Regions from separate parts of the Homo sapiens genome. Here all the other regions are linked to region 2. Evidence: fine-mapped expression QTL. A gene starts in region 2. Each other region holds a variant in brackets. All regions are shown on one strand. Distances are between the middles of the regions.

Region 1 (5,107 bases), 47 kb after region 2:
ATTTCAGACTCTGAGTTCAGGGTTTTTATGGAGGACTGGTCATGTAGGCATTCTCTGCCTGTAATAACAATAACAACCAAAATTGTAGGCTCCTGGAAGGAAAGCAGCTGTTCAGTGCCCCGGGCTGACAAAGCAGCAACCTTATCACTTAGGGAACATTTCAAAAGCCAAATTCCTGGCTGCCAGCCTAGGGCCAGCCTTGTAAGCTAGCCCTTTTCAAGATCAGCCCCGCAGTTAACATATTAACTCTCCTGCATTATTCTTTTCAGTGCCCAAAGAAGACTGATCGTGCCTGCCGTTAGTGATAGCTTTACTGTGGAGATCATTTCAGAGGCTCTGAAGTTAGACAGATATTGGTGTGATACACACATCCCTTTGAATAAGTTACTTCCCCTTTCTTAGCCTTGGGTGTCTCATCTGTATAAGGAAATAATGCCTTCCTCACAGGGTTGTATGAAGATTAAAGGAGAATAATGTAAGTGTTTAGCTTAGTACCTGGCACATAGTAGGTGCCCATGAGATGATAGTTAACGTGAGTTTTACTACACTGGCACCTTGGTGCACTATGAAGTGCTATGTGAGGAATCTGGCATCTTTCAGTCAGTCTTGAATCCTAACCAAGGGGACTTTCACATTTATACGATTTTAATGTTCTAAACCTCTCTTTCTTTCCCTATCTTTGTCCCTCCCAGGACATACAATTTTAATGAATCTTAATATGCCCAAGGCCCCCAGGCAATTAACAATTGAGTAGTACAGGCTTTGCACTCAAGTTTTTAGGTTACTAGGGAGACTGACTATAAAGGCAAGGTAGAAGGAAACAGACACTTTAAAAGAGATATAATAGGAGAAGAAACAGTAAATACCAAGTTGGGGGCTATTGAGGGTGTCACAGAAAAGATAGTAGTTGAGCTGGGCCTTGAAGATTCATTTTTATTAGGCGGAAAAGAACACAGGAAGGCATGCCAGGCAATATGAGGAGCATGAACAAAGGCACAGAGGTGTCAGCGGGCACAGAGTCTTCATGGCAACCTAGAGAGGCCAGCGTGGTCAACTATGTTGTCCCTGTGCTGTGGATGAGAAGGCAGAGTGGGGAGAATGTGGTTACTGGGCCTAGGGCCACAGCCCTCTTTGATAGTAGGAGTAGCTATTAATAGATCAGGGCCCAGCTTATCCAGCATTAGAGTCCTATCAGGTTTTGTACTGATCTCCACCATACAGGAGCACTGTGTGTGTGTGTGTGTGTGTGTGTGTGTGTGTGTGTGTAATTACACAAGTAATGCATGAATAGATTGTCATTCTGAAAATACCAGTGGTACATGAGTAGAGTGAAAAATGAAAGTTTTCCTTCACTACTCTGATCCCTTTCCATTCCTCTGCCTAGAGGAACCTTGTGAACAGTTAATTATGCAAATGTATTTGTTTCTACTTAAATCATACTGTGCATATTCTGCACCTTGATTTTTTGGGTCATCTAACAGATCTGTCCAGGTGGTACATGCATATCTACCTTGTGTTTTTTTAATTGGTGCATAGTATTTCATGGTTTGGAAATACCATGACTTATTTAATTATTTTCTATTAATGGACATTTGATTATTTTAAAATCGGCTTTTATGAAAAATGCTATAGTGAACCTACTTGTACATGTGTCTTTGTGTGCATATATTTCCATAGGATAGATACCTAAATTTTGAATTCCCAGATTGAAGGGTATGTACATTTTAATGATAGCTACTGCCAATTTTCTCACTGTATTTTTAAATTCTCCCCCCAGCAGCAGCATCTCTTTTCTTGTGTTCTTGCCCACAATGCATGTGATCAGTCTTTAACATCTTTGCCATTTGTTTTGTTGTTATTTCTGTACTCAGTGGTTCCTGCATTAGACTCTGTTCCTTTTAGGAGATGGACGGTGTCTTGTTTGTCTCTAGTGCCTACCACAGTACTTGCCTTGCTGTAGGTGTTCAGTAAACATGAGAGAGCTCATGTAGTCCCTGTCGTCTTTATTACATCCCCATTGCTTGAACCTAAGGATACATTATGAGGAAGCTATGCTGCGGGTAATGATACTGGAAATTTAAGAAATTCAGTTTACTTCTTTGAACACCAGTATTTCCTTCGCCCGCTTGGTAGATACACGTCTCTCAATTTGGAGCAGAGTTTCTGCAGGTTATGTTCACCATCTACATCTTAGGTACCTTAGTGTTACAGTTCATTAACTGGGTTTAAGACAATGTGATTTTATTT[A/T]AAAAAATCGGTAGTGTTTTCCATTCAGACAAAATGTATATACTATTTTAGTTTTAAAATCTGAGCATATGAAAATTGAAATTGTGCATAAAGAACTTTTTTTTTTCATGTCGAAAAGCAGTTAGGAAACTACATTGTGTTTTAACCTTGAGTTCTTGAATTCTCACTGGTGCAGTGTCTTTCGTAATTCTCTAGATCAGCGAGGTGAAATTAAGATGAAAATTGCTAGAGTGTATTCGGATGAAACTTTCCGGTTGAGATCAGAAACATTCAAATTTATTTTCCCATATATCCAATTGTCATTTTGATCGCATACCCAAAAATGCCTCTCTTCATTTGACTGCATTTGAGATTCAGTTGACAGTTCTCCTTATGCACCCTCCAATTTGCACTGCCTGATCTTTCTCCTAAACACCACATTGACTAGAGTGTGCTGTTTCCCTAGAAAGTCCTTTAATAGTTCTTCTCTTCATTTTTGCAGGGACAGAATTACTTAGTTTACTGATTTTCAACCTTTTTGGTCTCAGGATCTCCTTGTACTCTTAAATTATTGAATATCCCAAAGTGCTTAGAAAATTCTGGCAAATACAAGAATAGACAAGCACACATTTCATTAGCCATCAGGGCAGTGATGTCATCATGTCATGGAGCCCTTCAGAAAACTCCATTGTACACTCCTGAAAGAATGAGAGTGAAAAAGGCAAATGGTGTCTTAGATTTATTATAAAATAGTTTTGATCTTATAATTCCCTGAAAGGATCTCCAGCCACCCCGCTACCCCATCCTGGGGTCCTAGGACTACACTTTGAGAACTGCTGATTTACTTGGATGGAGGGAGCATCATGTTCCCCCAGCAGTGATTGCATTTAGGACTTACCAATTTCTGTGGCTTTCCCAGTGTTTTTGAACTTTGCTGGTCATTTGCTGATATTCACCCTTGTGGTTGAAGGAGAATATCCTGCTGGTCTGAAGCAAATGCACATGGGCAGCCTAGGAAAATATTCTCTGTCATATTAGATGGAATCGATGACCCCATCTCAGCCTGGGTTACTGTTTTAATATGTTGCTCTATTGCTTTCCCGTCACCTCTAACTTTATCCTTTCCCCCAGCTGTGAGTCATCTATTGCTGAAGGTATGCCTAATTCCTAAAGACAGTTCTCTGCAAATAGTAGTGTGTGCTTTAAATGAGTAGGCTCATGAGTAGGCTGTGCTTGGTCAGGCAAAACAGAAGACGACTGTTATAACAAACTTGAGGGTACATAGATTCATTGAGTACTTGTATGTGCCAGCTATTATTAGGCACTGTATATATATTATCTCTTTTAATCCTCACTATAGGAAGATAAGGAAATCAGGGTCTAGCAATAAGTTAGTTAATATTCTGTGTCTTCCTTGATCAGGTTGGGACACCACGCTCTGTGTTCCAGTGACACTTCTCTTGGTAGTACCAGGCATGCTTATAATTAATGGTTTGTAATAGATTATTTATATTTAATGGAGGCCAGAAACTGGGATTATTTTATCTGTTATATCCTCAGTGCCTAACACAGTGACTGGCACCTAGTATGTGCCTAGTAAATATTTGTCAATTCACTGTTCATGGCCACACCTCTAGTAAATAGCATGGCTGGGAGTATGACCCAGGTCAGTCTCATTCCCAAGTCCAGCATTTCTCACGGTATCTTGTTACTCACATAACACTGGACCCAGTATATTTTTGTAATATTTCCCTGCTTGCAGTTTTATTCTCTGCTTGTTTGTTTTATTTTGATAATTTTCTGACTTCCTAAACTTAAAAGCACTGGGTTAAGACCATATTTGGAAGAAGAATTTCAAAGTTGGAAGGAACTGAGAAGCACAGTCTATTCTACCATCTAACTCTTGGTATTTTTTTTTTTAATGTCATCCTTTATTAACTATCCCAGTGAGAAGGATCTAACTTTCCAAAGAAAGCTATTCCATCATTTGGCAGCTTTGACTCTTAAAATTTCAACTCAGAATGAGAAAGCATTTCAACAAATTCTTATATGAGATGTATCTAGACTCCTTAGAATCTTGGTTGTTTCCCTGAATTGGTTTCCACATCCCTCCTAAAAGATGGTTCCTTGAACAGATGTCACAAAGTTTTAGGGTCATTGAATCAGCATAACTCTGTATTGTCCTCTTTTAAGTACCCTAAAACCACCGTAGCACTTGTGGCAGCTGTTTTCATCTGTGCCCCCATTTACAGGCATCTCCCAAGTTTCTGTGTTGGACCAAGGCCTGCGTCAGGTGCTGGATGTCCAGAGATGAATAAGAAATTGTCTCTGGCAGAACTGGCTCATGTTCTGATTTGTATTACAGTTATGGTTCAATAAAGCCATCAAGTTCAGAAAGAAACACATGTGCCCTTATGAAACTGTATCTCTCCCAGCCTTTACATTTGTACTTGACTTTTTGGTTCATTGCAGTTTTCTGTGTGGATCCCAGGTATTTTTCCTTTGGTTAGATTTGGCACATCATTATTGCCTGTCAGGAACTTTTGAATTGATTCTGTCAGCTGCTGTGCTTACTGTCTCTTTAAGCTTTGTGTCATATAACATTTTTTCATTTTGCCCTTTATCTATCTTTGCTCATGTTATTGATTAAAAAAAAATAATAAAATACTTGATCTAAACAGGCCTAAGGACAGACCCCTCCAGGTGACTAACAATCGTTCAATTACTTTATTTATTTATTTTTTGAGACAGAGTCTCACTGCATTGCCGAGGCTGGAGTGCAGTGGCACGATCTTAGCTCACTGCAACCTCCACCTCCCAGGTTCAAGCAATTCTCCTGCCTCAGCTTCTCGAGTAGCTGGGATTACAAGTGTGCGCCACC
Region 2 (5,107 bases):
CTGTTTCCACATCTGTAAAATAAGACTCATATCAACATTTTCTCCATGAGGTTTTCACCCAAACTAGAATGTAGGTTTCCAGAAGGCAGGAGCTTTGTTTTATAAACTTCCATATCCTCAGAGCCCAGAATTGTGCCTAGCATTGAGTAGGCTCTCAGTAAATACTTGTTGAATGAATGAATGAATGAATGAGTCATGTTACAGATAAGGAAAGTGTAATTTAGGGACAGAGAAAGTAACTTACCCAAGGACCCATGGCTAGATATGGTGGAACTTCCACTAGAACCAGAATCAGGGTGTGTTGGGTAGATGTTTAACAACTGGCTCGGCTGGGTGCAGTGGCTCATGCCTGTAATCCCAGCACTTTGTGAGGCCAAGGCGGGGGGATTGCTTGAGCTCATGAGTTTGAGACCAGCCTGGGCAGCATGGTGAAACTCTATTTCTACAACAACAGCAACAACAACAACAACAACAAAATAAGCCAGGCATGGTGGCGCACGCCTGTAGTCCTAGCTATTTGGGAGGCTGAGGTGGGCTTCAGCCCGGGAGGGGGAGGTTGCAGTGAGCTGAGATCCCGCCACTGCACTCCAGCCTGGGTGATAGAGCCCGAGCTTGTCTCAAAAGCAAACAAAGAAACAAAAAAACCCTACAAGTAGCTCTCTGGAAAAACAACAACATTAACAACCCTGATTTGTAGCATTTGCTGATTTACATTGTACAAATACTCCTAGCATGGCTGATTTCAAGCTATCAACCTGGTGTCAATCAGCTTGCAAGTTTCCTACAAATTTAACCATGGGCTTTTGTAGACCTGTCTGTGCAAGCTGGCATCAACATACCATGAACTAGAACACAGGGGTCTGGGTCCAAAGGGTACACCCTCACCATTACTCTCTCCTGTCTTCCCAAACAAGGCACAGTCTATATTCTATTTTTTTTTTTTTTTTTTGAGACGTAGTCTTGCTCTGTCGCCAGGCTGGAGTGCAGTGGTGCCATCTTGGCTCACTACAATCTCCACCTCCCTGGTTCAAGCGATTCCCCTGCCTCAGCCTCCCAAGTAGCTGGGACTACAGGCACGTGCCACCACACCTGGCTAATTTTTTGTATTTTAGTAGAGATGGGTTTTCACCATGTGGGCCAGGAAGATCTCAATCTCCTGACCTCGTGATCTGCCCTCCTCGGCCTCCCAAAGTGCTGGGATTACAGGCGTGAGCTACCACACCCGGCCGGGCACAGTCCATATTCTTATATAAGTAGGAGGGGGAAAGACACCCAAATAGACTGAATTCAATGCAGATTGCATAGGTGATCCTTTAAAAACATAAGCCCAGTCACAAAACTACCTTGCTTAAAACTTTCCTTATGCCGTTAGCATAAAATCCAATCTCTCTCTCTTTTTTTTTTTTTTTTTTTTGAGACAGAGTCTTGCTCTGTCACCCAGGCTGGAGTGCAGTGGTGGAATCTCAGCTCACTACAGCCTCTGCCTCCTGGGTTCAAGCGATTCTCCTGCTTCAGCCTCCCAAGTAGAGGCATGTGCCACCATGCCCAGCTAATTTTTGTAATTTTTAGTAGAGACGAGGTTTCACCATGGTGGTCAGGCTGGTCTCAAACTCCTGACTTCAAGTGATCTGCCCGCCTTGGCCTCCTAAAGTGCTGAGCTTACAGGCGTGAGCCACCACGCCCGGCCACGCCTAGCCAAAATCTAATCTCTTTACCATGGCACACAAGGCCCATTATGAAACCTCTCCCTCTACCAGGCACTGTACTAGGCTTGGGGGATACAGTGGTGAACATGACACACACATGTCCTGCTTGCATAGAGCTTGCAATCCAGTAAATGAGGCTGTCAAGAAACAAATAGTCAACCATTAAGCACAAAATTACAGAATGAGATATATACGTAGTGGAGCAGGTACTTGGAAAAAGAATAATGAGGAGAGAGGTTGATTACCTGGACCAGGGTGAGTTGAAGAAGCCCTTGTAAGAAAGTGACATTTGAGACCCGAAAGATGAGAGAATTGGATGAGGTATGGTGCTGATGGCCAGGCAGAAGGGGAGAGGATTTGTCATTCTGAGGAATAAGAATAATTTCTGTATAATTGGAGCCAGTGCAGATGGGATGGGGACCAAAATTATAAATATGAAGGGCATATAAATATAATATAATACATAAATATAATTATAAATATAAAGGACAGGGGCTTATGGAAGGAGGTTTAATTTCCTTTGAAGATGGAGCCTTAAGTCCCAGGTGCATTCTGATCTTGTTTAAGATCAGATGCACTCTGAATGATTCTCTTCCAATTATGGGCAACTTTCTCCTCCAGAAACCTTTTTATATCACCTGGGTAGCAAGGGGATCATCTAGTGACCGTTAGACTTCGCATAGATGAGCAGACACAAGCCTAGAGAGGGACATGTGATCACCAATAGTTTCTCAGCCAGTAATAGTTGTACAGCCTTGGAACAAGTCACTTTTTGAGCCAGCACTATCTGATAGAAATTAATGGGAACCACAAATGAGAGCCACATGTGTAATTTAAAACTTTCTACTAACCACATTTAAGAAGTAAAGAGAAACAGGTAAAATTCATTTTATAATATATGAATTTGACCCAGTATATCCAAAATATCATTTCAACCTGTAATCAATGTAAGTCTTAGAAATCTGGTGTGTATTTTATTTACACTTATGGCACATCTCACTTCGGAGTAGCCATATCTCAAGCGCTCGGTAGCCATATGTGGCTAGTGAGTAAAGTATTGGATGGTGCAGTTGGGAGCGTCAGTTTCCTTTTCTGTGAAATGAGGATAAATCACTGGAAGCTCGTGAGAGCGCACACGAAACACCCGGCACTCCGCCCTGGACACTAGGGACGCGCAATCAAGTTTGGTTTCTTCTGGTCCCTGCTCTCCCCTCCCGCCCCTCCTCTAAGTCTCCGCCCCCTTTCCCCGCCCCCTCAGGCTCCAGGCGGAAGCAACCCTGTTCCAAATGCAGCGCGCTTTACGGCGGCGCGTCCTTTTACCGCGGTGTGGCCGGCTCGCTTGTCGCTCGCACTTTTGCCCTATTGGCTCTGCGGCTCCGCTCGCCGCACTTTACGGCAGTGTGGCTGGAGCCGCGGCTGACGGGCCCGCGGTCTGGGCGTGAGTGCAGGGAAGTGGAGTATTTGCTGGGCCGGGTACCATGGACGTGGGCGAACTTCTGAGCTACCAGGTATGAGGGGCAGGGAGGGCCGAGCGACCGCGTTCTCACCTGGGCAGGGGTCGCAGGAGCCAGAGCCCTTTCATCTCACCTCCTCTCGCCTCACTCCCGGGCCCTCTAACTTCTCATGCCACCCGGGGTCTCAGCCCCTCGTTTTACTTTGCTCTCCGAAGCCCTCCTGGGCCCTTTCGATTCATCCCTTCTCAAGACCTGAGCCCTTCACCTCCTCTTCCTCACCCTGGGGCCTGGTTCCCTGAAACTCCTCTGAAACCCCAGACTATCCTTTTTTTCACAACCATGTCCTCTCAGCTCTCATGTCCCCCCAGTCATTGAGGTGATGGTGGTGGCGGCGGTGGGAGTGCACTGGTCTCACTTGGATTTGATCTCCAGCTTCTCCACTGACTGGCTATGTGGCTTTTGGACAAGTCATTCCCCCCCTCTTTGAACCAAGTTTTTGTATCTATATAGTGGAGACACTAATAACTGCCTTAGTAGGGTTGTTTGAGGACTGTACCAACTGATATGTATGAAAGCTGGTTTTAAAGTGTGGAAAGCTGTGCTTGTGTTTACTGCGATTTGCAGGAGATGTTGGGAATTCTAGCATGGAATGAGTTTCTAGGAATCTTGCTCAGGGTCCCCCTTGCCTAGGAAACTTGTGGGGAAACTGTATGGGACCTAGAGAGCAGAAAGGGCTTGTCCAAAGTCACTCAGAAACAAGGAGCTGGAATTTGAGCTCAGGCGTACTGACTTCCACCCCAAAGTTTTTCCCCCACTTTGATTCCATAGGAGGGTCATTGCGAGGAGCAGTAGAGCTGCACTGCCGAATGTCGTAGCCACTAGCCACATAGGCTGTTGATTGCTTGAAATGTGACTAGTCTGAATTGAGAAATACTGTAAGTATAAAGACACATTTGGGTTGGAGACTAGTATGGAAAAAGTGAAATTTTTATATTGATTACATGATCGTACTGATTATATCAATTACATTGGTTATTGGTCATATTGATTAAATGATCATATTTTGGATAATGGGTGAAATAAAATATACTTAATTAATTTTTAAAATTTTATTTTATTGTTATTTAGAGACAGGATCTTGCTCTGTCGCCCATGCTGGAGTGCAGTGGCACAATCATTGCTCACAGTAGCCTTAAACTCCTAGGTCTAAGGTATCCTCCCAAGTAGCTAGGACTGCAGGCAGGCATCACTATGCTTGGCTGATTTTTAAATTTTTTGTAGAGACAGGGTCTTGCTATGTTGCCCAAGATGGTCTCAAACTCCTAGCCTCAAGCAGTCTTCCCACTTGGCCTCCCAAAGTGCTGGGATTACAGGTATGAGCCACCACACACCACACTCAGCCAATAAAATATGTTTAAAACCAATTTTAACTGCCCCTCTTGACATTTTAATGTGTTTACTAGAAAATTTAAAACAACATATATAGTTCAGCTTATATTTTTGTTAGACAGCCCTGCAGTCAAGAATAGGTGATTAAGAGCCATGAGTCTGGACCCCTAGGTTGCTGGCAGTCTCTGTTTTGCTACTAACTGGCTGCTGTAACCTTGAACAAAATACTTAATTTCTCTCTGCCTTGGTTTCTTCATCTGTAAATGGGGGACAGTGACGGTAGCTGCCTCACAGGGCTGTTGTGAAGCTGTTGAGAAATGGAAAGTCCTTAGACAATGCTTGCCAAAGAGTAAACATTCAGTAAATATTAGCAGTTATTTTCATACCACTCCCTCAGCCAAAGTACAAGAAATTGACCCTGGACGCTTAAGACATCATGGGAAAGAACAGTTCAGCAATGGGGAGCTATATAGCCAAGAGATTTTTCTTTTAAAGACAGTTTAATTGATAGTGAAAGATGAAGGGAAATAGGCAAGTTATTAAATCAGTGATTGTATG
Region 3 (5,107 bases), 67 kb after region 2:
TAACATTTTTCACATGTGTCCATAGCTGTGGTCGATTTGCTTCAGGAATTAACAGATATAGACACCCTCCATGAGAGTGAAGAGGGAGCAGAAGTGCTCATCGATGCTCTGGTAAGTTGCACATCCTCTGGGGTTTTGCAGGTTTGTATAAGTTGTTGGCATTGCCACCACCATCGTCTCGGAGAGTGGCCACCAGGTGGAACTCCACGGCAAGGCTGGAGTGTGGTGAGGCTGGAGTGAATAAGGAGAGTAAAAAAGTAGAGATGTGGCTGGGGCAGTGCTTTATGCTTTGGGACTGTGTCAGGTAGAGGCCTCGCCCTTATTAAGTCTCTGCTGTGGGCAGGGCCATTTCTCATTCTTCTCACCACATCCTCTCACATGGGCATTATTGCTATTATTTCCATTTACAGCCATGAAGCTGTGACTTAGGCCAAACAAATGGCCCATGGTCACACAGCCAGGATTTGAACCTGTGGTCTCCTAGACTCTATGTTTTCTGCCCCTTTCTTCCCTCCTCTCTTTTGTTGCTACTGACCTTTTTACAAAGAGCTTTCACAAATGTTTTTCTCATCTGGACTTTCTAATCCCAAGTGCCAGTGAGAACAGGTATTATTATTATTACTTATTTTACAGATAGGTCATCAGAGAGGAATTGGAGAATGTCGAAAATAAGAACAAACTTTATAGCTCATTGAGGCCAGAATGGCATTCCCTGCCTGTAGACGACAAGGCAGTTGATTTCTGCCATCTTTTGAGGAGCCTAGGCAAGGCCTCAGAATGTTCCTTAGCTATTGATCCACACAGCAGCTAACCCAGAGGAGTTGGTCTGTGAGGCGCAGCTGTGACCAGGTGCCAGCTAGGCAAACTGCCTTACATGTGAGGAAACCCAGCTGCAGAAGTGAAGCCTCCCGCTGGGTCGCTCAGCCCGTCCTGTGACAGCTGATAAAAGAGACTGCATGTTCTGATCCCCAACACAATTCTGTTTCCACTGCCCCAGATTCCCCAGTTCACTGGTGATCAGAAAGGGCCACAAAGCTGCAAAGGCACCCCAGCTGGCCAGCGGCAGAAGTGCATCTAGTCCAGCCCCTACCCTGATACCACCTGTGGAGCTCTGTCCACCTGCAGAGCTGTATCCCTCCTCAAGGCTCTGTGGATTGTTCTTCTTCTGTTGTTTCTCTTGTCTTTTCTCTCTGGTAAGAATGTTAGTATTGGTTTTGACTCAGTTAGCAGTTGATCAAAGATTACTCCAGCCACTAGTATTAGAAGCACCTGGGCTGCTTGTTTGGCTACTTTCTAGTCCTACCCAAGACCCACTGAATCAGAATGGCTGGGCCTGGGGTCCCAGATGATCCCGAAACCCCACTGCTACACTGCCCACCCCCTCCTCACCCTTTCTCATAATGTTCTCGACACTAGAAATTTCCCATGTGCCGTGCTTGCTGTTGGCATTTGGTGTGAATGAAGGGGTTGTGAACCCACTGGTTATGAAGAACTGGCTCTTACAGAGAGTGAGGCTAGTGTCCAGCAGGGCCATTTATGACCGAATATAATGAAAATTTCTATGGCCATTTTTCTTTCAGGCTCCTTTAGAGAGCAAACTGCTACTTTTGTAGAATTCAGGGCATTTATTTTTCGTTTGAACCACTGTGCAGAAAGAAGAGGATGATGTTGGGATGTCGTTTTGTTTTGAGGGGCGTCTGAGGAAAGACTGTGGCACTTGCTCCTACTCTGTGTCCCTGCAGTGTCGTTTGTGCAGTCTTACCTTCCAGAGGTTAATTACATGGCCCTGAATGAGCCTTCCTGCTTGGTCCCTGGGCTGATTTTAATTACCATCCTTTGCCTGTCTGAATAGGGAAGACGAGAGAGGAACAGCTAGCCTGGCTGTTGCATGTAAAACATACCCAGAAACAGCAATTCACTCAAAAGCCCCCTTTGTTTTTTCTGTGTTGTCAAGCCCACTGACAAAAGCTGCATCTTGGCAGATTTTATTGTTTGTTTGGAAAGAAACAGTTCACCCTCAGTCTGGGGAGCCACTAGGTAACTGCTATACAGGATGTTCTGTTTGTTTAGTTTAGTTTTTATTTTTATTATTATTATATTAGTTTAAGATTTTGACTCTTACAGGTTTATCCTGGTGGGGCTGGTAGGAATCACAAGCATTGAACATTCCTGGACTCCAGTAGATTATTTGCTTGTCTGCAACCAGTCGGAAGTCATCAGTAAATATC[A/G]GAGAACAGAACCAGCGGTGGTCTTCCATTTACTTTTTTTACTCTTGGCTGCATTCAGGAAGAAATTTGATAAGTACTCTCATATTACAAGGGTTGAGTTGTCTTTGTAGTTTTAATTTGAGGCCAATATCTGAGGCCTAGAATTGCACGAGCAGAGGCTAGAGGGCATGTGGCAGAATTTATTGTGGTGTGCAGTTTGCAGTTATTGCTTTGGTCTTTTTCCCAGTTGGAAGTCCTAAGCAATAGGATGGCACATTTGTGGGGAAAGAACACTGTCCTGGCATTCTCAGGGATCTTCGGGGTTTTAAAATTTGGTTCATATCCACTGCTGTTACTTACGCAAAAGGCAAATATTTGTGCTTTGTAACAAGTTGATCTGGTAGCCTGGAAAATGGACTCTTTTCTGAAGAGTGGTAAGCGAGAGGGTATATTGCTTTGATGGCAATTCTCTGGCTTACCTCTCCAAAGATGACTTTGGACTTCTTGAGAATGATGATTAAATTACAGTCATTTTTCTACTTGCCAGTCCCCAAACTTGCCATGTGCTAGGTAGTCCCATGCCTTCGCTCATGCTTTGCCTTCCACTTGCCTAGCCTTGCTTCTCTGGGGCTACCTGGAATACTACCTCTCATCCCTTTATCTCTTCCCTTTTGAGTTTTTTCCAGACTCATCACCTCAGCAGGATGTGTTGTTCTAGCACTTTGTACATTCTGGCACTTGTCACATTGGATTATAGATGTCTGTTTATAAGTTTGTCCTTCCTGAGGTGTGATCCCCGTCAGGGGAGTGGTCAGAGCAGTGACTTTGTCATTTACCAATTCTGTGTCCTTGGGAAAGTTACTAACCTCTCCATACTGTTTCTTTCTCTGTAAAATGGAGATAACAGTAGTGCCTATCATACAGTACCAAAGTGATGAACAAGTGAGATATTTAATAAGTCTTTAGAACAGTCTGGCACAGAGTAAACACCTGATAAATGTTGGCCATTATCATTATAAAGGTACTATGCCTGGCAGATATTAAGCATTTAGCAAATGTCAGGTTAAAATTGTATGTATCATCTACCACACAGTGAGATGTCTGTGAATATTGAGTTCACAAACATTTTTTTCAGTTTAAAAAATATTTCAAAAACATTTTGAACAAACACTCAATAAAACCACATTTGGATGGGGTGGGCCTAAATAAGAAATGAGAGGATAGAGCTTTAGTTTAAAAAAAAAAAAAAAGGAAGAAGTAAGTAATGATAATACAAGGCAGAACATTGAAAACAGCTATGAGAGGGGCAGTGTTCTGTGGACATGAAGAGAGAGTGCTCGCTTCTGATGGAATAATCAGGAAGGGCTGCAGAGATGCAGGCATCGGTGATGGCCTCTGAAAGGGGGCTTTAATATGAGAGCATATGGAGGTGTCCCAGCCAACAGAGATGGAAGTGTGGCTGGGTGGTGTAGCTGGCCAGTGTCTAGGAGCCAGCATTTGCTTTATAGAAACGCTTTATAGAGTTCCACAAAAAGTGGCTTTGATGTGGACTGCCAGGGGACTACCCTCCATACTCATTCCTGCACTAAATTAACTCTACTGAAATGTTAAACTTTGAAGCCCTATCTTGGTTTGCCTTGGACTTGGTTGGCAATGGATTTGTGCTGCCCAGGTGAGGCTGAGGTTGGCCAGGTTTATGTTGCTGTAAGGGTACTTACTATGAAAATTCCTGGATTCTATTCCTTCCCATTTCCATTCATGTTCTCACCTTCATCTGTATTTGTTCCAAAGCAAAATTCATTTGTTCATTTGTTCACTAAATGTTTATTGAATGCTTGATGTGTTCCTGATTGTAGGAACCAGCTATATAGCTGTGAGCAAGCCTGACAAAGCCTCTGCTTTTGTGGAGCTCACAAGGTATGAGTGTAGGGAGAGACAGTAGATACATAAACAAGAAAACTATCAGAGAGTGGTTCTCTGTTTAAGAGAATTAAAATAGAGTGATGTGATGTAGAGTAGCTGGGAAGTCAGGTTGGATTAAATAGTCAGGCAAGGCCTGAGTTCTGGAAGAAACCAGCCATTCAAAATGATCAAGAGCAGGATGGGAAAAGGGCAGAAGACCTAAGGCAAGACTGAGGTTGACATATTCAAGGAACAGAGAAGGGGCCAGTCTTGTTAATGTGCAGCTGGGGCGAGGGGAGAAAGCAGAGTCAGGGCCAGACCACGCTGGGCTCTGTGGGCCTTGGTGAAGAGGTTGGGTGGCATTGCCAGGGTGAAGGGAAGTAATTAGAAGATATAAGCAGGGGAGTGGTGTCATAGCCTGACAGCATTTTAAACAGAGCATCTAGCTGCTGTGTGGATAATGGACTGGAGGGGCAAGAATGGAAGCTAAAAGGTTACAGCTAGGATACAACAGGCCTGAGTTTTGCATTATGACCATGTTACCATATTATTCTCAAAACTTGTTTGATCAAGATTCAGTGGGTGTGGGGTTTTATTGTTATTACTGTGTTTTAAATATGAAATTCCTGAAACTCCTAGTAGGCAGAAAAATCCCAATCTCATTCTTGAGAAAGCTTATTGGCAGATCGTACCAGATAGAAAAAGAAGCCTCCTTCAAACCCTCTCATCTGTCTCTTTTTTATTTCCTCCTCTTCTCTTATATCCATCCTCTTTGGTCAAGTGGAAGATGATGTGTGATCATGCCCTTGAACTTTAACTCCCGGAATATTGTTTGGGATGCCTGCTAACAATCAGAAATAACAAATGACTTAGCAGAAAACATCACACCCCAGACAGTCCTGATTTCCAAGGCAAGGGTTGCCCTGGCTGATGCTTTAATCCCTAAGCAGGATTTGTTTTTAGTTTCAGACTTTGTCACAGGTCCAGAAAATTGAAGG
Region 4 (5,107 bases), 94 kb after region 2:
AAGGTATGTGTAGTTTATACGCCACAATTACAGTGTTATAATATTCTGTGTTTTTCTGTGTACTTATGGTTACCAGTGGGTTTTGTACCTTCAGGTGATTTCTTATTGCTCATTGGCATCCTTTTCTTTCAGATTGAAGAACTACCTTTAGCATTTCTTGTAGGATGGGTCTGGTGTTGATGAAATCCCTCAGCTTTTGTTTGTCTGGGAAAGTCTTTATTTCTCCCTCATGTTTGGAGGATATTTTCACTAGATATACTATTCTAGGGTAAAATATAGTTCCTTCAGCACTTTAAATATGTCATGCCACTCTTCCCCTTTAAATATGTCATGCCACTCTTCCCTGGCCTGTAAGGTTTCCACTGAGAAGTCTGCTGCCAGACATATTGGAACTCCATTGTATATATTATTTCTTTTCTCTTGCTGCTTTTAGGATCCTTTGTTTATCCTTGACATTTGGGAGTTTGGTTATTAAATGCCTTGAGGTAGTCTTCTTTGGGTTAAATCTGCTTGATGGGGTTTTGTAACCTTTTGTTCTTGCATATTGATATCTTTCTCTAAGTTTGGGAAGTTCTCTCTGATTATCCCTTGGAAAAGACTTTCTACCCCAATATCTCTATCTCCTCTTTAAGGCCAGTAACTATTTGATTTGCCCTTTTGAGGCTATTGTCTAGATCTTGTAGGTGTGCTTCGTTCTTTCTTATTCTTTTTTTCTTTTGTCTTTGACTGTATTTTCAAATAGCCTGTCTTCAAGCTTACTAATTCTTTCTTCTCCTTTATCAGTTCTGCTGTTAAGAGACTCTGATGCATTCTTCAGTATGTTGCATTTTTCTGCTTGATTCATTTTAACTATTTCAATATCCGTAAAATGTAATAGGATTTTGCGTTCCTTCTGTGTTATCTCAAATTTCATAAAGCTTCCTCAAAACGCTATTTTGAATTTTTTATCTGAAAGCTCACATATCTCTGTCTTGCTGGCATTGTCACTGGTCTCTTACTTAGTTCATTTGTTGAGGTCATGTTTTCTTGGACGGTCTTGATGCTTATGGATCTTTGTCGGTGTCTGGGCATTGAAGAGTTAGGTATTTATTGTAGTCTTTGCAGTCTGGGCTTGTTTGTATTCATCCTTCTTGGGAAGGCTTTCCAGGTATTTAGAGAGTCTTGGGTGTTGTGATTTAAGTCTTTGGTCACAGCAGCTGTGTCTGCATTAGGGGGCATCCCAAGCTCAGTAACACTCTGGCTCTTGTAGACTTGTAGAGGTACCACCTTGGTGGTGTTGGGTAAAATCGAAGAGAATTCCCTGGATTACTAGGCAGAAACTCTTGTTCTCTTCCCTGACTTTTCCCCAAACACGTGGAGTCTCTCTCTCTCTCTGTGCTGAGCTGCCTGGTGCTGGGGGAGGGGTGAGACAAGCAAGCACCACTGTGGCCACCACTGGGACTGTGCTGGGTCATTCCTGAAGCCAGCACAGCACTTGGTTTCACCCAAGGCTCACATTGACCACTGCCTGGCTGCTGCCTGTGTTCATTCATGGCCCAAAGGCTCTACAGTCAACAGGTGGCAAGTCCAGCCAGGCTTGTGTCCTTCCCTTCAGGACAGCAAGTTCCCCCCAGCCCCAGGCAGCTCTACAGATGCCATCTGAGAGCCAGAGCCTGGACTTGGGAACCTTAGAAATCTACCTGATGCTTTACTCTATTGCGACTGAGCTGGCACCAATTGGATTTGTTTTTTTTGGAGGGCATCTTTTTTTAGAGAACCAACTCTTGGTTTTGATATAAATATGCATATGTATGTGTGTACATATATATATATATGCATATATGTGTGATATAAATATGCATATGTGTATTTGTATATATATGGTCTACAATGCTTGTAGCATTTTGTATATTTGTATACCTTTCCCCCGCCTTTAATTCTTTTTTTCTACTTTTTTGTTTATTCTGTTGCCCTTTTTCCAAGTTTGTGAGTTAAACGCTTAATGCTTTAAAAAATAATTCTCTTATTTAAAAATAAAAACATTTCAGGTTAAAAAATCTCCTTTTAATATTGCTTAGTTTTATTCTCTATTCCCAAGTGATTAAGTCTTATTTTCCTATTACATTAACAGAAAATAGAGGCTATAAAATACATTTCTGAATTTGAGATTTTGTTTGTGGCCTTATACTTGGGTAGTTTTTATAAATATTCCGTGAACATTTGAATAGAATTTGTGTTTCTAGGGTATAAAGTACTATAATTATAACATAAATCAACTTTGTAAACATATTCCGTTCTTTTCTGTCCTTTTTATCCCCTAATTTGTTTAGTCTCTAACTATGGTTGTGGATTTTTTTTTTTCTGTTTCTTCTGATCCTTCCTATATCCTTAGCATTTTTTTTTTTTTTAAGAGACAGGATTCCACTATGTTGCCCAGGCTGAAGTGCAGTGGCTGTTCACAGGAGGCAATCACAGTGCACTGCAGCGTTGAAGTCTTGGGATATGATGATCCTTCCAAGTAGCTGAGATTATAGGCACCTGCTACCACACACCTTTACTTTTTATGTCATTTTGTGTTACGTGTAACTCTTGTTAAAGACACATAACTGTGTGTTTTTTTTTTTTTTTTTTTGAGACGGAGTCTCGCTCTGTCGCCCAGGCTGGAGTGCAGTGG[C/T]GGGATCTCGGCTCACTGCAAGCTCCGCCTCCCGGGTTCACGCCATTCTCCTGCCTCAGCCTCCCAAGTAGCTGGGACTACAGGCGCCCGCCACTACGCCCGGCTAATTTTTTGTATTTTTAGTAGAGACGGGGTTTCACCGTTTTAGCCGGGATGGTCTCGATCTCCTGACCTCGTGATCCGCACGCCTTGGCCTCCCAAAGTGCTGGGATTACAGGCGTGAGCCACCGCGCCCGGCCCATAACTGTGTTTTTTAATCCAGCGTGAAAGTTTGTCTTTCAGTAGATGAATTTAACTATTTGATTTTATAGTAATTACGTTTAGCCCTTTTCCTGTTTGTTTTATGGTTTCCTTGGTTGTTTTATTGTTTTGTCTTATCTTTTTTTCACTTCCATTATTTTCCTTCTTCTTTGGAGATTTGGAAAATACTATTCTTTCTATTAGTGATTACCTTTAGTTTTTTAGAAATGTGGCTTTATTTCTTTGTCTATGAACGTTTGAAATTGTTTCTAGTCCCCTCAAGATCTGGCCTCTGCCTCATCCTCCTACTGCCATCTCTTTCATTCTTTCCTTTCTGCACATTTACATTCCACTCTCTAAACCAAACTATTTTAGATCCCTTGACACATTTTGTTATTATTATTATTTTGATGACTCACTTTTGATGTTTAGGCTTAAACTTCTCTAAGCAGCCATTTTCTTCCATGTCTCTTCCCCCACGTCTGTCCTCACATCCCCACCCCTAAGTTTTGAAGGTTGGGTGCTAGCATCCTTTGCTGCCTCTGTCAGAGCACTTTCTGCACCATGCATGGTAAGTTGTACGGCTGTGTCTTCAATTGTACTGTAATACTTTTCAGAGTAGAGACAGAGTCTTCTTCCTCTGTATCTCCAGTATCTAGCAAAAGATACACCTTTGGTTTTCTGTGTTTGGTTTCTTAATTTTCTAAATTAATGAGAAACATTTTGCTGTTTAGGATCATTGGCCCACGGAATTTTTGGCAAACCGTGTTCATAGACCCAAAGGAAGAGGAGTTAAAAAGCCTGTTGCCGAGAACTCAGTCTCTTGCCTGAACATATTTAGTTCTGTTTTCCCTGTCAAATTTTTCAGTGCATGGAAAGCACAAAACGGGGCCATAGTGTGTTGTAATCCTGATCTTGAGGCTCAGGGGAGGCTAGGAGTCCACTCGAGTCCTGGGCTCCTGCCCTGTTTGGCCTGTGCCCATGCTGGGCTTCAGAACAGAAGCTGCATAAGCTCCCCAAATGAGCTTATTCTCCTTTGCCTTTCAACTCTCTTCTTCCGTTATCCTCCCAGGTATTTAGGATTATATTAGGTTTTCAGTTCTTATCACCTTTCTTCTCAAGGTTCTAAGAAGTCCTTCATGCAGATTTGTAGTCTCTGAGCTTTCATTTCCAGGAGCTGTTTGTGAAGCACTATTACCTACTCGCCCTTACCTCACAGCCCTCTCTCCTCTAGTTTTCCCTGTCACACAGGTGACTTTTCTCCATTCCTGTGTTCAAACTGTCTGGATTTCACAGTGCTTGACAGAATCAATAAGAAGAAAAGCTTTCTTGTTTTTCTCTCTTTGCCAAAGGACAGATGAAGACATCTTGGAAAAGAAGAAAAGATTGTTGAGGTGATGTTTAAAAGTGGAACTCGTGCTGTGAAGAAAGCAGCGGGTAGCCATCCTAGAGTACAGGAACCAAAAAAAAAGAAAAGGAATTTCTCATTTGCTCACATTAGTGTCTTGATAAATGAAAAGAAAAGATGAGGTAAGGGTGGAAGACGCAGAACCTCTCAAGCAGTGGACAACTGTGTACTGAAAGGCGGAGAGGACCAGAGTCTCTGATGTAGAAGGAAATGCTCCTTTGTGCATCGGGCAGCTCAGCCTGCTTCTTTCAGTTGGATAGTCAACAGTTAGGTTACAGTAAGGATGTTTGGATGGTCTTTGGTGAGCAGCAGAAGAATTAACATATGAACATGAATGAAGTGGTAGTTTTGTAGTCTGTGATGTTTGAGAGTAAAATAAAATTCAGAAAAGTCACAATTTATTGTGCTGTTTAACAAAGTGATCAGATTCAGAGGTTCCAATCCACAAAAATAAGACAAAATTATACTTACCTGGGGTGGCCATTTTAGAATTAGTCAGGAAATGAGGATGGAACTGTAACAGTGCCCTCATTGTCCCTGGAGGGAGACTGGTTTGCCACTTCCGTTTCTTTGTTACAGATACCTCTCTTTGGTAAGATGGTTGCTACAAATAGAAGATTCCAATATATCAGGTTTAATTATAGCCTGCACTCTAAATCATTTGCTTCTTGCCACCACAAAGCACTTTTTAACAGTATGTCCTTGTATCAGAATACTTCAATGTTCTGTAAGGAGCAACAGAGCCAGTGGGAGACAAAAGAATTATATTGTCAGTTTCCTTGAAAATGTTGACATGAAGCTTATTA
Region 5 (5,107 bases), 110 kb after region 2:
TTGCGCTTGTCAGTTCTGGAGACTGGAAGGGGCCCTCTGCAGATCTCCGTGCAGCTCTCTGCTGTGAACTCTAGCTGCATTGCTCTGCCGGACTCCTAGCTCTGTCTCCTCCCTTCTCTGAGGCCTGGAAACTTTCCAGGCAGTCAGTTGGGCTCATTGCATGTGTTACCCTCCTGATGTCAAGTGTCTAAAAACCATTGTTTTGTTCATCTTTTTTTTTTTTTTTTTAACTTTCAGGGTTAGGGAGGGTGTAAATCCAGTCCTTGTTACCCCATTTTGGCCCAGAGTGGAAGTCCAGCAGTATATGACACTTTTTAAGCTACATTTTCTTATTCTTTATTCCTGGTGGGTAGTAATGCAATTAACTTGTATATTGATCTTATATTTAGCAACTTTGCTCTATCACATATCAGGCCTCAGTCATAACATGGTTATTTGTTGGAATAAGAAGCCCAAAATTTCAAGGACTTTCAATGACAGGTGTTTATTTTTCACTCATGGTTCATTCATCACTGGCCGTCAGAAGCTCAGCTCTACACCTTCTTTATTTCAGGACTCAGGCTGAAGGAGCAGTGCTTCATGGTACATGCCTGTCTCATGGTAGAGGGAAGAGACCGCATAATGCAATAAATCTTAAAACTTCTCCTCTGAAGTGCACATGTTACTTACATTCACGGTTTATTGGCTGTGCACAGTCACATGGCCAAGTGTGAAGTCTGTGGCGGGCGGTGGGGGTGATATGGGTAGTGATGTGTTGGAGCCGGCTCATGTAGGTTCATGAGAGCTGATGGTGCACATCTCTTCCTATCACTGCATTTAGTGATACCATATTAGTAACTTGAAATTGCCTGTGGTCGTATTTATTATTTATTTATTTTTTGTTTCTGTTTTTCTTTTTCCACCCACCCCACCCTCTGGCTGTGGTCCTATTGATCTTACTGTCTAATTCATAGAAATCCTGAATCCTGTAAAGTGATCTTGTATTTCAGACTCTAATGTAAGTGAACTTCATCATGCACGTTGTAAAGCAAAGAAAATATGATCTCATGTGGCATTATCTGTATTTCTTGCCACGATTAGTTTATGGTTCACAGAATATTTTAAAGAACACCTTGTTGCTTTTTTTTTTTTTTTTTTAATCAGTCTCCCTTGTCCAGGAAAGGAGAGGGTTTTACCTCTTTCATTTGTCCTTCAAATAAGTTTCCTTCAAGGTCCTAGTCTTCTGTTCTGAATACTTTCTGTACCCTCCCAGGGTAATCTTACTCACACCATGGATTAATTACTGCACATAGATTTGATGACTCTTTCAAAATTTTCCCTATTGGTGACTTCATTATTGGGCTTCAGACATAAAAGTTCAAGCTGGACATCACGCCGTGTTCCACAGGCATCTCAGGTTCAATCAGAACTCAACCCTTCGCACCCCCGCCTTTCTTACCAGTCTTTCTGCCTCTGATATTGTTTCTCTCTTCCTTCTGCTCCCCCATCCCTGTTACTGTCCAACACACTGTGGCAAGCATAATCTTTCTTATACACAAAAGTCAGCCTGTCTTCTGTTTTGCTGCTGCCCCTCTTCTTACTCTTTATATTCTAGCAGTACCATGCTCCACTTCCCTAAATGTCCCATGCTTAACGCCTGTCTTTGCATGTGCTCTTGTTTCCTTCTGCATGAAATACCCTCTCCCTCTTTGCGTATCCAAGAAAAACATCCCCTGCAGCTTGGTTCAGGCATCATCTCCTTTTTAAGTCCTCCCTGACTCAGACATGGTCAGCCCTCCTTCCTGCGTTCACTCTGCTTTGTATATACCTCCACCGTAGGACTTAGCTTTTCTCAGTCTGCCCATTCTCTGCATGTCTGTCTCCCCTGTGGACCAGACTCCTTGGAAGCAATGAGCTGTGCCTTGTCTCTGCATCCTGGACTTAATATCTGGCACCTGCTAGGTACCTCATAAATATTTGATGAGGGAACAAATGAACAAAGAAAATCATACTCAGAATCTGTGTTTATAGCAAAAGTGTTTTTGCATAATAAAGAAGAATAAGCTAATTAAAACTACAACAGAAAACGTTTTCTCCCACATCAGAAGGCTCACTGTTAGCAGAATAGGGAGCAGTGGATGACTCTCCACCATTTCCCACAACCCCCCAGTTTTATAGAGGCTAGCATTCACATTGGTTCTGGCGTGATCGACAGCCTGATGAACCCAGACAAGACTAAGATAAACTACTTGTCCTCCAGTAGAATAAATATTTCAAATAAAGTCAACCCAAGAAAGGCAGGCCAAACAGCTATTGATTTCTAAAAGCCTGAACTCAAGCCCAGTGAATATTCCAAAGTTCACCTCCATGCTGCTTGCCTAAGTGGTGATCAATATGCAATTACTGCCCCCTCTAAACATGTCTTACACTGCCTACCTCAAGAAGGATTTTACTTTTAAAATCTTTTGTTTGTTGAATTTGCTTAGGCAGGAAAAAAAAAGAGAGGCTTGGCTACACCAGAGTCTTTTGAATTGTATTTCAAACAGTTCTGTGTTATTTGTGAAATGGTTTGAGCGTATGCTGAATGGTAACTGAAGGTGCCCTATTTTATGACCGCCATTCATTTCAAGAGGCCTTTTCCTGAGTGACTAAACAATACAGATATTATATCTCAAT[G/T]TCCTAAATTTTGCTCACATGGTTATCTGTCCTAGTCATGACTTTTATAAATTCAAGCTTGTAAGATGCTGAAGTCCAGCTGCAGTGAAAACAAGTCTCTGTTAGAATTTTCATCTTAATACAAAAAATCCCTTCGTACTGAATTTGGAGCCTTGTTTACCTGGCTCCTCATATTTAAGATTTCATGCTTCTCTCAAATAGGCCTTTTTCATACCATTGCTGTAGTCAGAACCTTTGGTCATTTCTCATTTTTGTTGTTGCCAGAGTCTCCTAACTGTCCTCCCTTACCCCCAAGCGGTGTCATTCCCGTCCCTTCTTCACATTGCTGCCAGATTAAGCCTTCTAAAATGTATCTGTCCAGGGCCCTCCCTTGTTTGAAATTCTCATGCCTTCTCGACATCTACAGGATGGAGCCTGGGTTCCCTGACAGCACGTGTGGAGCCTGTCATGACCGTGTTCCTCGCCGCCTCTCCTCAGTCATCTTCCACCACTGGCCATTCGGAACTACCTCTAGTTCCCTGGCTGGCACGCTCCTACAGGCTGCACACACCTTTGCACATGCTGTACAGCCACCACTCCCAACAGTGTCCTTGCTCTTCGTTCTCTGCCTGGCAAATACTCATTCCTTAGACTCGGTGCAGAAGTCACCTGCCATTTGACACCTTCACTGACTTCTCCCAAGGCAAATTATCTCCTCTTCTCATCATCTTGGACTTAATTTCCATTGCTTCAGACTTTTGAAAGCATTTTTATTTACCTCTTCTTACATTGCTTAAAGACAAGGACCTTATAACTCCTAGCAGCTAGCATAATGTCTGCTGCATAAAGACATATGCTCAATAGTATATGCCTTTTTTTCTTTGAAACTCAGTAGTTGGATTGATGGGCATTTGTGAATCTTTGTATTGTTTGATTGATCCACAAGGGAAATAAAGATAGGAATAGGTTAGCATGAAGTAGGATGGCCAACGCTCTCTCTTTGCCCAGGATTGAGAAGTCTGGGATGTGTTACTTTCAGTGGAACAGTCCTAAGTAAACCAGGATGGCCTGTAGCTCCAAGGGGCACTATCAGCAAGCTTTGTACCTACTCACCTTTCCTCCACTATTGGGACCCAGTCCTGGCTGGCTAGTCTGACCCAGGATAGCACTCTTTGTGACCAGTAGCACTTTAATAGTGCAGGGTTTTAATAGTGTTGTGTCTGCAAAAGACTGTCCAAAGGGGATATTATTTCTGATTCCTTTTCTTTGGCTTTCACATGAGAAATTGGATGAAAGGCTCTGGGTTGTTACCCTGTTTTTGATGAATACTGCCTTCTCTTGCAAGACCAGTCACCTCTCTCCAGCTGTTTATTTCTCCCTTGTTTATCTTTGGTCTCCACATCACCATTAGCTTTTCTTAAAAGTAGTAGTTTAAATCTTGACCCGGCTTCCCTCTCTTGGGGTTCCTCCTCCAGGCTTTACTAAGGCGTAACCTACACTCACCCTTCTTACTTTCTCACCTCCTTTTACTTTTCACTCCACTTCTGCCCTACCACTGCTCTCTGGAAGGTTGCTAGTGGCTTCCTGATGGTGAAATCTGGTGGCCGTTTATTTTGCTTTTTTGACAGACTGGAATCTCTTCAGAAACTGTCTCCTTCCTCTAACTAAAGTATTCCCTGCTTGTGTGCCCACTGTACTTATTATTTTGTTACCTAGTTTTTTGTTCATTTATTTTAAATATTTACATGTATATTATTCTTTCCCCACACTCTCCCAAATACATGTAATTTGTCTCTCTCACTTTAATGTAACACATGGCAATCTCAGAACCAACATGTTGAATTGCATCCACTTTACTCCTGGAATCACTTCTTCACTTGGATGCCTTGTGGCCTTTGATACAGCCCATGTTTCCCTCCCTGATCGAAGCTAGGAACACTCTGCTCCTTGGCGTACCTCAAACACACCAGTCGCCTGTCTACAGTTCATTTCTATTTCAGGACCTCTGTGCTTGCTGTTCCTCCTGTCTTGAATGTTGTTTTGCCCCTAAAATTTACATGACTGATTCATCTTATCACTCAGTTCTCAACACAATGTTACTCCTTAGGAGGCTTTCCTTAATAACTGAATCTAAGAGATCCACGCCAGTCATTCCTTCACATGTCCTCGTTTTACTTCCTTGACACTAACCATTATCAGGTATCTCAATTTCTCTTTGTCTCCTGCCTTGAGAATGTAAATTGCTTGAGAACTGGGACGCAATCTTTCCCAATCATGTGAGAGTTATCCAGTAAATATTTGTAGATTGAATAATACATGGGGAAAATTATATGCTGATTTATACTTTTCTCTGATCCTTTCATATTACTTTGGTCTCCCCAGATTTAGCTTTTTTTTTTGGAAGCAGAACCCATTTCTTACTGTTTTCTCTTGTGTCTACCACAGTGCTAAGTAGTTGCCCAGTAAATATTGC

Which allele goes with the higher level. Alleles are on the strand shown, and positions count from the first base shown. SD is a standard deviation of normalised expression in the study named. Not every link is listed here.
For the expression in thyroid of the gene that starts at base 3,092 in region 2, G is the high allele of the variant in region 3 and A is the other (moderate effect, 0.72 SD a copy in GTEx).
For the expression in prostate of the gene that starts at base 3,092 in region 2, allele T in region 4 goes with a higher level than allele C (large effect, 0.78 SD a copy in GTEx).

What was found. PIP is the estimated chance that this variant, and not a neighbour inherited with it, causes the effect. A credible set is the group of variants that fine-mapping cannot tell apart.
Region 1: its variant is the best candidate, but not a certain one, in a credible set for the expression of CTNNBL1 in whole blood (TOPMed, PIP 0.61).
Region 3: its variant is the best candidate, but not a certain one, in a credible set for the expression of CTNNBL1 in thyroid (GTEx, PIP 0.66).
Region 4: its variant is the best candidate, but not a certain one, in a credible set for the expression of CTNNBL1 in prostate (GTEx, PIP 0.60).
Region 5: its variant is the best candidate, but not a certain one, in a credible set for the expression of CTNNBL1 in whole blood (INTERVAL, PIP 0.74).

Annotation. Positions count from the first base shown.
Region 1 is chr20:37,737,852-37,742,958 of GRCh38, forward strand. The region is part of intron 3 of CTNNBL1 (catenin beta like 1); the gene reads left to right. Among named protein-coding and RNA genes, the nearest start is that of CTNNBL1, 46 kb to the left of the region's middle. The variant A/T (reference allele first, on the strand shown) is at 2,248.
Region 2 is chr20:37,690,939-37,696,045 of GRCh38, forward strand. It overlaps CTNNBL1 (catenin beta like 1), which reads left to right and starts at 3,092. Exons shown (of 16, transcript NM_030877.5): 1 at 3,092-3,214. The coding sequence starts at 3,185. LOC105372609 (a long non-coding RNA gene) reads right to left here and starts at 338. Exons shown (of 4, transcript XR_936703.1): 1 at 245-338; 2 at 1-12. RefSeq lists an enhancer at 3,370-3,429.
Region 3 is chr20:37,757,546-37,762,652 of GRCh38, forward strand. CTNNBL1 (catenin beta like 1) reads left to right here. Exons shown (of 16, transcript NM_030877.5): 5 at 14-111. Among named protein-coding and RNA genes, the nearest start is that of CTNNBL1, 66 kb to the left of the region's middle. The variant A/G (reference allele first, on the strand shown) is at 2,229.
Region 4 is chr20:37,784,752-37,789,858 of GRCh38, forward strand. The region is part of intron 10 of CTNNBL1 (catenin beta like 1); the gene reads left to right. Among named protein-coding and RNA genes, the nearest start is that of CTNNBL1, 93 kb to the left of the region's middle. RefSeq lists enhancers at 992-1,493, 1,494-1,993, 3,709-4,908. The variant C/T (reference allele first, on the strand shown) is at 2,654.
Region 5 is chr20:37,796,236-37,801,342 of GRCh38, forward strand. The region is part of intron 10 of CTNNBL1 (catenin beta like 1); the gene reads left to right. Among named protein-coding and RNA genes, the nearest start is that of VSTM2L, 100 kb to the right of the region's middle. The variant G/T (reference allele first, on the strand shown) is at 2,656.